Linked DNA regions of Homo sapiens. The protein of the gene in region 2 purifies or fractionates together with the protein of the main gene of each other region. This does not show direct contact. Each region holds a gene or a part of one and is shown on either strand. Other genes may lie near its edges. The genes, in order: BTBD9 and CBR3.

Region 1 (7,249 bases), on a different chromosome or scaffold from region 2:
CCCTCATGTTCAGCGCATGGAGCCTTGGGCCCCACATGCACCAGCGGAGTTGCTGGAGACTCAGGCCCAGTTGTGGGGTCACAGGAGAGGGCACTGGATCCCAGACGGCAGGGCCTGCAACACTGAGTTCACACACCCAGGACTCGAGATTGGGGCCAGGGAGAGCGGCAGCGCCTGCAAGGGGCCGCCTCCTGGCTCACTGGTTCCCTTCCCCGCATCTCCCCTGGGAAGCAAGATAAATGGGGGAAGTTGCTACCAAATACTCACGGGCTCATCAGGTAGAAGAAGCAAGACATGAGGAAGAAAGCAGCTGGGGCTAAGCTCAGAGGAGGAGAAATGACAAGGGAAGGGGACTGGGTTCAAGGTGGTGTTTCCTAACCCCCCAAAAATGGCATCGAATAGGCCATGGGGTGGGGTGGAGAGAGTGCCACAGGAGGTGGGAGGGAGCTGGACAGCCCCTCCACCCTGAGGGAAGGCCCTCAGAGCCGGTGACAGTGCTGGCCCAAATCCGCTGGATCTGCCCACGCCGCCGCCCTGGAGCAAGCCGGCCTCTCTGTGCCTGCTTTGCTCCAGGGCTGTCTGCCTCCCTCCACAAGGCAGAGGAAGCGAGCGGGGGCCTGGGTGGACACCCCTGAGTGCCTGGGCCTGCAGAGAGGGCCGGATGGCAGTGTCCATATGAGGGCACTGGGGCAGAGGGGCTGACCCTGGCCTGGGCCCCCTGCTTGTCCCTGGGCATCGAGAGGGGTTGCTGCAGAGAGTGACGACTCGAATACAGCACAAGTCACCACTTTATTTCTAAGAGAAAACCTGCATTTTCACACACATGGACTCAGGGGTTTCGAACACACGGTTTGTACATCTGCCCGCTTAGGTTGCTCTGCAAAATGAGGAAGAAGCCGCATCGTGCTCACAAATAATACACATTCCACATAGCAGCACAGCCTTTTGGGCATCTTTGGAGTTTTAGACGGAGCTTCTGGAGTCACAGAGCCATTCCCAACCCAGGCCTGGCATGGTCCCTGCCCTTGCATCAGAGTGGCCTGGGAGGTACACACATCTTTACAGGCCCAGAAACGCCAAAGGCTGGGAGGCTCTTGTTCTCTGGTGAATCCGGATTCAAGACAGGCTTCGCAAAAGCAGCTCTTGGGCCGAGCTCCAGGCCTAGCCCTGAGGACCCCTGGCCTCCTGGCGCCCCTCCAGAGTCTCACGCTTCTCCAGGCACTGGGGGGTGGGGAAGGGTGGCCTCAGGGACATAAGGACCAGGGAGCGTGTGATGGAGAGATTTCTCACTGTTCTTCTGAGGGGGTGCAGCCTCTCTGAAGGTCACTGTGGAGGGCGCACCAAGGCCTGGAGAGCCTTGGGGAGAGATCAGGCCCCACAGACCTGGAAGCTCTGCCCCAGTATCCCCCAGCCTGGGCGGCCGGGCTGTGCTCCCTGAGGACCTTACTGGCAGCACCCTGCCCTGCTGACCCTGGAAGCAGCTGATTGAGGGGCCTGGGAAGACCCCATGGCCTCCAGCAGGTCTCAGAATGACTCCTGTAGTGGCTAGGACTAGGGCACTGGCCGCACCCTCAGGCCCAGGTGGGAAGTGTGGGCTGGGGGTAAACCCAGCAACTCAGGACTAGCAGCAGCCATCAGGGGCTGTGGTGCAGGAGCAGCCACCAGGGCAGCACCAGGAGGCAAAGGCCCTGAGGGAGATGAGCTGGTGCCGTCCCCTCCCAATTCCGCTCAGATGGGCACCCTCGCCTTCCTGGGACATAAACCCCTGGGGCTCATGTGGTGGGGAGCAATTTGGCAGCAGACGGACTAATATCAACGTCTCCAGTGACCCAGGGCCCAGTCCCTGCCCTGAAGGCTGCTCAGCCCCTCCAGCCCCCGTCCCGCCTCGCAACGCCTCCTCTGCGCCAGGGCCAGGGCCTCTCCCCCTAGTGGAGCGACTGTCCACTGGCTTTCAAAGGCGGCACTCCTCAGCTGTCACAGCCGCAGTGACAGCCTTGGGGAGGCTGAGGGGGCTCTGTCAACCAGGGGACACTAGTGGGGACAGGTGTGTAGCTCCTGGCTGCAGGGCCTCCTCCACCCCCCCTCCCCCCCGCCCATTCAGGGCTATAAATACTCACGGACGCAAATGGTAAATGCTCCCAGACATTTATCATAAATTACAGGTGGATGATTGTGAGTCTTCAGGCCATGAGGCCTCTTGGGGACTATTTCAGTTCTTTAAAAAAAAGAAGACACGAAGCTGATGGGGCAGGAGGGCCGTTCAGCCTGGCTTCTGACTGGAAGCTCGCTGGGTGCAGCAGACTGGCCTGGGAGATGCCAGGGTGCTGGGTGGGTTGGAGGCTGGGCCAGGGAGCACCGTGACCAGTGGTGGTCACAGAGGACGTGAACGATGACGTGGGCCCAGGTCGGAAGCAGCCAGAGCCAGATGAAGGGCACCTGGCCCCTTCCGCGAGGTTGGAGCATTATGCCAGGAACAGGTGTTCCCTGTACACTTTTTTAAGTGAGTAAAGAGAACAGTGATTTTCAAACAATGGTGTGTCGGGTGGGGCGGCTCTTCCATGCACCTGTCCCCTGCCTCTGCATGAGCCCAGCAGAAAATCCTAGCTGGAAGGCCGTGGGGCTTGGGGCCAGCACTGTGCAAAGGATGGGTGAGCACGCTGTCCCTCGGAGCGTCCTCAGTGGTGCAGCCAAGAGCCAGGAAGGGCACAGCCTCTTTCCTCCTCCCTGATGGAAGCCAGAGACCTACCACAAACAAAGACCTGCTGCCTCCGCCCCTCCTCCCTCCGCCTCGCCTCTGCAACCGGTCTTTCCTCCAAGCAAACCTTTTCCGCGCCCTTCACCATTCACTCTGCAAATGACCAGGGCCTCCAAATCCCGTCCAGCCCCAGGTATGACTGGATCCGTGTCAGCGAGAGAGATGGGGGCATTCCAGTTGTCCTGCATGCCATTTAAACCTTGCCCTTCCCTCTCTTCTGGAAACTCTGAGCAAACACCAGGCACTAGGACAACTTCTAATTTAATATTATAATAATAAAAGCCACGGTGGCACAGAACCATGAACTGCACTTTAAATTCCTAACTGAACTCCTGCCGGGGCTGTTGTCAGGAAAAATATGCAGAATCAATGGCTGCAGCTGCCAAAACAAATGGAGTATGCCCACCTCTGCCACGGCATCGCTGCAGACCTGCCCTGCCCGGGCCGTGCCCGACCTGGGCATCGCTCGGAGGAGCTGGTCACCACATAGAAGGTAAGATTAAAATAATAACACCGACAAGCAAGCACTAATGAGGAAAAACTCCTGGAAGGAAGCAAATTTAATTTTCTTTTCCTCTTTGACACCTTTCTTCCCTGTCCAAAGGGAGGTTCTTAATTGAAGTCTGTGAGGGGAGCGCTCCATCTCTTTATCACCAAGTGGCCTCAGTACACAGAACGCTCGCTTTTTATTGTAGATTATACCTTCCTTTTCCCCCTTGGCTCTGGAAAGGATAAGTGATTACAATTTTGTTATCTTCTAAATTAAAAAGAAGGTGAAGTTGACTGGGCTGGAGCCATCTGCACAGCAGTTTGACAACTGGGGCGACAGCATAATACTGGGCAATTTTTTGCACAATTCAAAAGCTTTTTTTCTCTTTTTTGCCAAGGAATCAGTTTAACAAACATCCTACTCTTGCTGAAAATAATTTCTTTTCCCAACTCTTCTAGGAATAAAACACTTTTAATGTATTTGTCAGGAATCGACACTTCATTTAATAGGATTTAAAAAGTGACAATTTAAAGAGCAATTGAGAAGAGTCCCACATCCATCATGGCTTGTGCTTCTAACTAAAATCAAAGGAATGAAAGCAGAAAAAGCACTGAGAAAATGGTAAAACGGGTGTGTGTGTGTGTGTGTGTGTGTGTGTGTGTGTGTGTGTGTGTGTGTGAGAGGGAGAGACGGTGGGGGCGGGGGGTGGTTCATAGCTGCTTCAAGTCCAAAGTGCTCACAACGGCTCCTGTGAGACTGCCCTGCTGGGTGCTGGCTGCATGGACACAGCTGCTGCCCAGCACACACCCTACCTGCCCTACACTCTCAGTCCACCCCAAATGACCCTCCCCAGAGCTGCCAGAAGGTGACTTTGAAGGCTTTTTTCCCCAAAAGCTCCAATGAAGTTGCCTTTCTACTCTCAAAAAAAAAAAAAAAAAAAAAAAAAAAAAAAAAAAATAATAATAATAATAATAATAATAATAATGAAAAGTGAAGGGTGGGGGTGCTGGCCACCTCCCATTTCTTTGCCTGGGTGGTGGTGACCATGGCGCCCTTGTGTCCTTTCCATTGGTTACTGAGGACCATTGCCCTCATGGGCCCAGGCCACAGGCACCCACCTGTCAGCCTCACCTGCCACCTCTCTCCATGTTGGCTTGTTGCCCCTGGGGCTGGCCTGGGCATGGGGGAGCTTATCTCCCCGACCAGGGGCTTGGCCATGTCTCCTTCACAACCCCCGCTCCCCACGGACTGAGCCTCCACTCTCTGCTGGGCTGAGGGCTCTGTGGTGCCCAGGAGCCCTCCCAGCCACGTGCCAGCCCATCCCATCATCAGCACTTGCTTTTAGCTTCAAGTGTTTAGGTCGCTTTGGTCCTGGTGGCCCAGGGGAGAAGTGCTCTGTAGGACCAGCCAGGCTCTGGGGAACTCCAGGCTGCCCGGGGACTTTCTGGTAGCCACTCACTTGTCCCTGTTCCCTGGAGATGAGGTCCTTGCCCTGGTGTGTGGTGTGACACACCTTGACTTGGCCTCCAGGCCCAGCTGGACACACGAAAAGAGTTCCTGCCCCAGTCAGAAGGCCCCTCAGGGAAGGGCAGTACCCCTCCAGCCTGGGAAAGGAGGTGAACCCGTGTCCTTTTGGAGTCCAGGGCAGGCTCCCAGCAAAGCGAGGGGGAGGCGAGCTGGCAGCGCGGCTGTGAGGGAATGAGACTTTGCCATCAGTCCTCACCAATGACATCTACTGTTAGTGCCACCCCATCGTCCCCATACTTCTCTTTATCTGATGATAAGGGGCATCTTTAAAGTGCTAGAAGACAGGAGGGACAGAGATCTGGAAGGGCATGCCCCGAAGGAAAGAACCGCCACAGGCCAGGGAGCTGCAGATGTGGGTCTAGGGCCGAGGCTTTGCAGCGTATTCCTTTTCAGATGCGAGGCCGAGCTGCCAAGCTGCTATCTCGTTCCCGGAGCACAGGAGGGCTCTGCGTGCTCTGTGGGCAGGGGACTGGAGGGTTGCAGATGCAGGGCCGGGCAGCTCCTCCAGCACCCCCACCAGCCCACCCTCTCTTCCCAAGGTCAGCAGCATGCTGCTTCAGGCCAAGGGCCTCTGGGCAGGTGATGCCCATGTTTAAAAAGAAGCATGTGAATGGCTCATTTCAAAATGTTTGAACTCTGCCCTTGATATGACTGTCTGGCTCCTTTGTCCCCATCTGGGTAGAAAACACACTGGGGAAGGAAGTGCTGTGTGTGCAGGAGCTCTCTGGCTAATTGGCAACCCGGGGCTGGGGGCTGACAGAGTCAGCAACCATGCTGGAGGGCCCCCCACTGTGAGCGGGCGCCCACCGTTCCTTACAGGAGCCTCCTCCCATTATGAAATGCCTGGCATCCCAGGAGTGTTCCACTCTCCCACACAACAGGGAAGTGGCAGAGATCAGAGCTGAGGGGATAGGAAGCAGCTCAGCCCTGCAGCTGGAGCTACCGGGGAGGATGGAGAGCTGCAGACCCTGGCTTCTCCTCAGGAACGTGTCCACCCTGCCCCGGTAGCCCTCTGATGTCTGCCATCCTGTGTTCACACGGAAAGACAGTCTTCCAATTTAATCACGCAGTTTGATGCTACCCTACTATTTCCATATGGACAAATCACTCAAAATCAAGTTAAACTAGGAGGAAGCGGCTGACCCGTTGGCTCTTTCTAGAGCGCAGCTGATATGTCTTTGACACACCTGAAAGGAAACTCCCACGCCCTCACCCTCCTTTGATCAGGGTTGCAGGTTGGCGCCGAAGACCCAAGGACTGCAGTGCTGCTCACGTGCCATGCCGTCCTGGGGAGACTCCCAGGCTGATGCTGATGGCGACAGAGGCCGGAGCTCTGGGGACAGCGGAGGGGCAGGCAATGTTGTGCGCAGTTACCCAGGGCAGGCAGCACTGGAATGGAAATCACTAAGTAGGAGACGGAGCCACATCAAGCCACCATCGTCAAATGAGGTCCTTTTGATGAGGATTAGGAGAAAAGCTTCTTGGAACTGCTATTTTTCAGTCCCCAGTTGAGTACTGTGGTGTGGGGGAAGCACGGAGTCCCAGTTCTGCGTTCCTGACGCTGATGGGCAGGTGGCTGCCTCTCCAATGCTTCGATAAACACAACTGGAGGGGCAGCTAAGCCACGGCAGTCCCCGGCAGGTTTGGCCACGCCAGAACTCGGTATATGTTTATCTACATGGACTTCGGAACAGTGAATTAGCAGCGGGCATAGTAACTATTTCCTTGTCAGCCTCCCAAGCTTAAAGGCTGGATCCATGTCAGGAATGACAGGTGAGTAACTCAGCCACACGAGTGACTATTAACTCCAGTGTCCACAGGTTGATTTGCTTGTGTGCATTTGTGGCACTTCCTCTGTGGCCCAAGTGCCAGGATGAGCTGCATCCGTGTCTCATTTAGGAGACATGCACGATGGGTCTCTGTCCCCGCAAGCTGAACCGTTCAAAACCAAGGAAGGAAAATTATAGCATCAAAAGGGATTAAAACTAGTGATTTGCTGTTTGAGCATTTCAAATAGATCCGGAACACCTATGATTCACTGAGTGGAGAATAACTAAAACAAATAAAAAATCATTTAGTTGCCAGGGCAATGTATTCCAGCAGAATGAACACTCTATGGAGGCCCATTCCTAAAGGGTGCCTCCAGGTAGCAAAGGCCCAATGGCTTTCTCCTCCGCCTGAGTGTTTGCGTGCCATTTTTGTATTCCAACACAGGCCTGTCTATGACTTCCTCCTGTTCCCTGCGCCTGGGCTAGATTAGAGAGGTAGGGTGTTAATGGTGGACTTGATGAAGATTGAAGACCCATTTTCTCCCCCTTGAGACCTGCCTGATTTGGATAAATTGAGAAGAACAAAGCAGCCCCTTTCTGTCCTTGGGAGAAAACCTGTTCGGTGTCTGCTTTTGCAGCTAGGTCGGCTCCTCCCTGGAAAGGGGCAGAGGTGGGGGCAGTCAACAGAGACCCCTGCTCAGGGAGGAG
Region 2 (7,131 bases):
GTTGCAGTGAGCCAAGATCACACCATTGCACTACAGCCTGCACAACAAGAGCAAAATTTCTTCCCACCACCCACCCCACTGCCAAACAAAACAAAACTAAACTAAACTAAACTAAACTAAACTAAAATGTTGGAGTGAGAAGCCAAACACTGTGGGAAAATGAAGCAATTTTCTATTTTTCCCCCTTCAGAGAAATAGCACCCCTGAGTGATTTCTGCAGGGTAGCCCTGCTCCGGGAAGCCTGTAGCCCACTTCTTACTGAGGGATGCAACCCGACTGTCCACACGTTGGGCTTACCATGAGGTTTCATTATCGGCAGTAACTCGTTGCACATGTTTCTAGTGGCAAAAAAATTTGTCTTCAGTGTCATCTCAGCTTTAATGTCAAAGGGCATTGGATCATCACCTTTCAAAAAGAGAAAGAAACAAAAAGAAAGTCATATTTTTCCCCCTGAAACTCACATGACAAAGTGGATCCTAACTCCTAACAACTAAAGGAAAAACAAGTTAATTTTAAAACAATTTTTAAGAACGAGGTCGGTGATTCTCAAACTTTAGTCTGCATCCGAATCACTTGTAGAGCCTGTTAAAACACAGCTTCCTGGGCCTCACCATTGGAGTTTCTGATTGCAAAGGGCTGGAGTAAGGGCTCCAGAATTTGCATTTTCTTTCCTTCCTTCCTTCCTTCCTTCCTTCCTTCCTTCCTTCCTTCCTTCCTTCCTTCCTTTCTTTCTTTTCTTTTCTTTCTTTCTTTCTCTTTCTTTTCTTCCTCTGTCACCCAGGCTGGAGTGCAGTGGCGCGATCTCGGCTCACTGCAACCTCCACCTCCTGGGTTCAAGTGATTCTCCTGCCTCAGCCTCTGGAGTAGCTGGGATTACAGGCACATGCCACCACACCCAGCTAATTTTTTTACTTTTTGCAGAGACAGGGTTTCGCCATGTTGGCCAGGCTGGTCCCCAACTCCTGACCTCATGTGATCCACCCGCCTCGGCTTCCCAAAGTGCTGGGATTACAGGCGTGAGCCATCGCACCTGGCCTGAGTTTGCATTTCTAGGTTCCCAGATGATGTGACAGCTACTGGTCTCCAGCCACACCTTGAGAACACTTGGCTTTGACTACCACTTCTTAAACTTAAAGGTGCGTAGGAGGGAGCTGGGGATTCTGTTGAAATGCAGATTTTTTTTTTTTTTTTTTTTTTTTTTTGAGGCAGAGTCTCGCTCTGTCGCCCAGGCTGCAGTGCAGGGGTGCAATCTCCTCTTCCTGCAACCTCTGCCTCCTGGGTTCAAGCGGTTCTTGTGCCTGAGCCTCCCGAGTAGCTGGGATTACAGGAGTGAGCCACCATGCCCAGCTAATTTTTGTATTTTTAGTAGAGTTGGTGTTTCACCATGTTTCCCGGGCTGGTCTTGAACTCCTGACCTCAGGTTATCTGCCTGCCTCAGCCTCCCAAAGTGCTGGGATTACAGGCATGAGCCACCGCGCCCAGCGGAAACGCAGATTTTGATTCAGCAGGTGTGGGGCAAGGCGGGAGATTCTGCCTTGCCATGAGCGCCCAGGTTTGCAGCTGCTGGTGGTCCATTCCCCATACCTTGAAAGGCAAGGGGAAGTCCCTCCGCCTGTCGTCCAGGAAGCCGGGTATTTATCCACCAATCTCTCAGCCCATGGCTGAGGGCTGCATTAGGGGGTGTTAATCCCCACTCCTGCACCCCAGCTCTCAGAAAGCCGGCAGGCTGAGTTGCCCGTGCGGGTCAAAGAAAGTCTCAGGTCCCCATGCACAACAATGCGGAGTGCCTAGGGCCAAAGGGAGGGGTGGAGACTTCTGCTCCCCCATCCTTCATTTCACTCCCTCTTAGGCTTTTTTTCCCCACTAGGTTGGAGGTGAAGCCGGCCTGTTTATTTCTCCGTAGTAACTTTTTTTTTTTTTTCATACGGAGTCTCGCTCTGTCTCCCAGTCTGGAGTGCAGTGGCGCGATCTCGGCTCACTGCCTCCCAGGTTCAAGCGTTTCTCCTGCCTCGGCCTCCCAAAGTGCTGGCATTACAGGCGTGAGCCACTGCGCCCTCCTGTAATTTTCTTCAGTAGTAGTTAGAATAAGCAATCTCTTGATCCCCGCCCCTCTCCTTAAGGAAGATGCTTTTAAGACCACACGCACGTATTTTATAACAAACATAAGCTCCCCGGGCGGGGGTGGGGGAACGAGAAGGCTCGCTTCCTTTTTGCCAGAGCCTATCAAAGCTCTGCATTACACAAATTGTCAAGTCCACCAAGGGCAAGCGCGCGCTAATCCTGTTTTAGCGATTCATTTCCTTTCCCGAGCAAATGCCTCCGGGCATCTATGAATGCGCCCTTTCAAGGAAAGCGAAAGCCCAAAGCGAGCGGAGACCGTTTCTTTGCAGAGAAAATGTTTCTCGCGTTGGAAGGAAAGCTGATGAACTCTAGCAGGGCGTTGCCCCCTCCCAGGAGGCCAGTTTTCCTGCACACAACAGCGGCTGACAGTTCGGGGAGGGCCCCGGGCCGCGCACAGGCCCTCACAGGCCGGCGGGCGGGGCGCGCTGTTTGTCGCCCGGGCCCGCCTGGGGCTCAGCGAATCACGGAAAGCGAAAACCGCCTCGCGGGAGGCGTGGGCTGAGCGCATCCCTAGGGGTCGGCGCCACCCTCCTCGGTCACTCAAGTGGACGGGTGGGGAGCCTGCGGCTGGCCACCTCCGCACCCTCGGAGCGCTCCAGGGGGCCCCAACCCAAGCCCTGCACCTACTCTTGAAGGCGACGGCCGCGTTGTTGACCAGTACGTTGAGCCCCCCGTACTCCTTGCGCAGGAAGTCGCGCAGGGCGCGGATGCTCTGCAAGTCGTCGATGTCCAGTTGGTGGAAGCGCGGGCTCAGGCCCTCCGCCTGCAGCTGCTGCACGGCCGCCTGGCCCCGCGCCACGTCCCGCGCGGTGAGCACCACATCCCCAGAGAACTGTCGGCACAGTTCGCGCGCGATGGCCAAGCCGATGCCCCTGTTGGCCCCGGTCACCAGCGCCACGCGGCTGCAGGACGACATGGCTGAGCGGGGAGCGCGGGGCACCTGCGTGGAGGGCGGACCGGGCTTCGGACCACCTGGGGCGCGCCCCGAGGAGCCCAGCTAGTGTCAATGCCGCCGCGCAGACTAAGTTCTGGGATCCAGTGCTGCGAGTCTTAAAGAAAAAGGCCCCGGCTCCGGTCCCTCCCCTCCGAGGAGGGGCCGTCTGTGCCCTCTGTTCCAACTCCCGGGCCCGCCCCCTGCCCACGCTGCGCCCTTCAGGATCCGGGCTCTGAGCCGCGGGGTGATCTGCGAGGTGTCCGAAGCCAAATCGGACCTTGATGGGTCAGTCGGGGGCTCCAGATTCTTGGCAACTGGACTGAAGAAATTATTTTGGGAAAACCCCAAAGTGAGAAAAACAAGTGCTGAGTAATTTTCTTGGGTGTGCGCCCATCATGCACTGCAAAATGCGAATGTTTGCTTTTTCCTAAGATGCAGTGACTTACTTAGACACAGTAACTGCTTCTCTGGACATAGGTTGCCTTGCTTGCTTAAAAGGAACTCAAGAGAGGGAACTAGATGCCCTGTGAGCGCACTTAGCAGGTGTGGGCAGGCGACATCGCTCTGGGATTCCCAGTGAATGTGCCCCCAAGTGGGAGGGAATGTTTTTATTTAATCCTACCTAACTCCTACGGGTGCTAAAAGTGTCTGCATTTAGGTTTGTCCAGGGAGGATATAGATCTATAAAGATCTGGATTGATCATATGTTCTCACAGATCTGTGTACCGGCAAAGAAAGTTAAACCAAATTCCCAAAGGTGTGTCAAGCTGTGGGCACAAAATTAGAGTCTCATCCATCGTCTTCAGTGTAAACTGAGTTGTTTGATCAGTGACTTTGAGATTTGGGGAGAACCATGACATCATCACGACTCAGCCTTTTCCATGCAGAGCTGGCTAACCCGCCTGTGTCTCTGTTACTCTGACTCTACCTTCTCTCTCAAGTCCTTACTTGAGGTTCCGGAGGTGGGCCCCTGCTGTGATCTCCTACTGTGCCTCCCCCAGTATTTCCTTCTTTTTTCTCCTAAAGATCATTTGGTCCGGGCGCGGTGGCTCACACCTGTAATCCCAGCACTTTGGGAGGCTGAGGCGGGTGGATTACGCGGTCAGGAGTTCAAGACCAGCCTGACCAACATGGTGAAACCCCCATCTCTACTAAAAATACAAAAATTACCTGGGTGTGGTGGCACGTGCCTGTAATCCCAGCTACTTAGGAGGCTGAGGCAGGAGAACTGCTTGAACCCGGGAGGCGGAGGTTGCAGTAAACCGAGATTGCACCACTGCACTCCAACCTGTGCAACAGAGTGAGACTTTTCAAAAAAAAAAAAAAAGATCATTTGGAACCTTGTTTTAAGGATATGGGGCTATTTAGGCTTTCTATTTCTGTTTTTTTTTTTTTTTTTTTTTTTTTTAATAGGGTCTTCTCTGTCGCCCAGGCTGGAGTGCAGTGCTGCAGTCGTGGCTCACTGTAGCGTCAGTCTCCTGAGCTCAGGTGATCCTCCCCTTTAGCCTCCCTAGTAGCTGGGACTACAAGTGTGCCACAGTCATGCCTGGATAATTTTTTTTTTTTTTTTTTTTTTGAGACGGAGTTTTGCTCTGTCACCCAGGCTGGAGTGCAGTGGCACGATCTTGGCTCACTGCAACCTCCGAATCCTGGGTTCCAACGATTCTCCTGCCTCAGGCTCCTGAGTAGCTGGGATTACAGGCGCTGCCACTACACCCAGCTAATTTTTGTATTTTTAGTAGATACAGGGTTTCACCATGTTGGCCAGGCTGGTCTCGAACTCCTGACCTCGTGATCCACCCGCCTTGGCCTCCCAAAGTGCTGGGATTACAGGCGTGAGCCACCACACCCGGCCTGCCTGGATAATTTTTTATTTTATTTTATTTTTATTTGTTTTTAGAGATGGGAGTCTCACTGTGTTGCTCAGACTGGTTGAACTCCTGGGCTACATCGATTCTCCCTCCTTGGCCTCTCAAAGTGCTGGTATTACAGGCTTGTGTCACCGTGCCTGGCCTAGTTCTTCTTGAGTGACCTTAATTTCTGTTTTTCATAATTTTATTTTTTTAAATAAAGCATTGATCCTGTTTTATCATTTGGCAGGAAAACTAGACAATCCACCAGCCCAGGAGGGGACAAGCAGGCTTATTCCTCCTCCTCGTCATCTCTGGCTCCAGCCCCACCCTGGCCCTTGCTGGCATTCTTCCTCTTCACGTGGCTGGGGTTGGCCACCCCAATAGGGAAGCAGAGGGAGAAGTCAATGTGCTTCTGGGAATCCAGGCGGACAGTGAAGAACAGGATATTTACCACCTGCTCACGGACACGGATATGACACTGTTGAATCAGCACATGAGCGTGGCGGATGGACTTAGCCAAGCCAAGCTTGAAGACCTGGGTCTGTAGGAATCTCTAAGAAATCATTGATCTTCAGGCCCAGGATGTAATCCAGCTTCATCTTGCCCTCATCCAGCACCCCAGTGCGGACCAGCCACTGCAGCAGGGCAATGCCTTCGAACAGACGCCGTGGGTCCTTCTCATCAAGCGTCAGCAGCTCCCGGGCGGCCTTATGGATCTTGACCAGGGTAAATTTGACCCTCCAGACCTCACATTTGTTCTGGAGCCCATACTCACCAATCAGCTTTAGCTTTTGGTCGAGATGAGGTTTCTCGAAGGGTCTCTGCAGGGTCACATAAGTTTGGCAACAAACCCAGCTCTGGGCCGCTGGCATGTTGGCTCCACTTGCCCGTCTATGCCTAAGCACAGGCCCTGGTCACTGAGAAAGAGCTCAAATTTTTTATATATTTCATCTAAGGTGTTGATTCTATTGATACCCTTATCCTTTTAACATGCCCTTATCCTTTTAATGTTGGTAATGATGCTACCTGTCATTTCTGAGACTGGTTTGTGTCTTTCGTGTTTTTTTCTGATCTGTCTGGCTAGAGGTTTACCAATTGATTTGATTTTCCTCAAACTTCTGGTTACAATGATTCTCTCTCTCTCTCTTTTCCTGATTATATTAATTTCTGTTCTGATCTTTGTTTCCTTTCTTCTGCTTACTGGATTTTATTTGCTCTTTTTCTGGTTTCTTACTGTAAAGGCAGAAGTCATTGATTTGCATTGATTTGAGACTTCTTTTCTAATGTAGGCAGTAAGTGGTGTAAATTCCCTTTTAGTATGACTTTAGTGGCATCTCACATTGATATGTTTTCAATTTCATTCAGTTTATTTTTATTTATTTTTTAAATTATTTATTTATTTATTTATTTTGAGTTGTGTAGCCCTTTATTAGCAACTAAAATAGAAGGTATCTGTTGTACAACATGGGTAGTAATTGACTATAACTGGAGATTTATTATATTCTAATACAGATCATTTATAAATGCAATTTCTTTATTAAAAAGCTTCCACCTTTTTGTTTGTTTGTGTACAATTTGCAAAACTATTCTGAAAGCGGAATATATGTGCACAAGTCTGCAAAGAGTGCAAATTTAGGATATGGTAAATGCTTTACAAGTTACTTTCAAAAAACTGTCTGCCATAACTGAGCCTTTACATTGTCATCTTTTTTGATCAAAATATTTTGATGCCAGCCTTCCTTCCACTGCCCTAAACTATAAAGCATTTTTTAATGAGTTGAAATTAAGGAAGGACTACACCTACTAGAAAAAAAGAGAAGAAAGTTCTATTAGTTTGAGGTTTCAGAATCCCCCCAAACCAGGACCAGTATCGTGGTAAAGGCTAGGCTGGGAGCCCGGACAGAGTATGAGAATGTGCAGGTGGCATCCCTGAGGATTCAGAGCTTCAGTGGACCGTGAGTGCTCCAGCTGCATAACTCACTGAACTGTCTTGCCAGTTTCTACACTGGCTCGACTGGGCATAATTCAAAAACGAAAAACTCATATTCATTCCATTCTTCTGGAGCTCTGTGATAGCATTTAATAACACCCCAATGGGATGTCTTCCACATATAGTATTATGGTATTTCTTCAAGTAATTGCTAAAAGATACAGGGTCTAATTGTTCTATAATACTCATACCCATTTTATCTAGATGTTCAATGGATCTACAAATCTCCCCCT

What was found.
Region 1: the proteins of CBR3 (region 2) and BTBD9 purify together in Homo sapiens (affinity purification with mass spectrometry; 3 studies listed by BioGRID and IntAct, with this or other methods). This does not show direct contact.

What each region holds. Positions count from the first base shown.
Region 1 is NC_000006.12:38,167,681-38,174,929, forward strand, and holds the end of BTBD9 (BTB/POZ domain-containing protein 9), read right to left. Parts: 3' UTR 771-7,249; downstream 1-770.
Region 2 is NC_000021.9:36,131,099-36,138,229, reverse strand, and holds the start of CBR3 (carbonyl reductase [NADPH] 3), read right to left. Parts: upstream 3,152-7,131; 5' UTR 3,038-3,151; coding exon 2,749-3,037; intron 406-2,748; coding exon 298-405; intron 1-297. UniProt on the Homo sapiens protein: Catalyzes the NADPH-dependent reduction of carbonyl compounds to their corresponding alcohols. Has low NADPH-dependent oxidoreductase activity.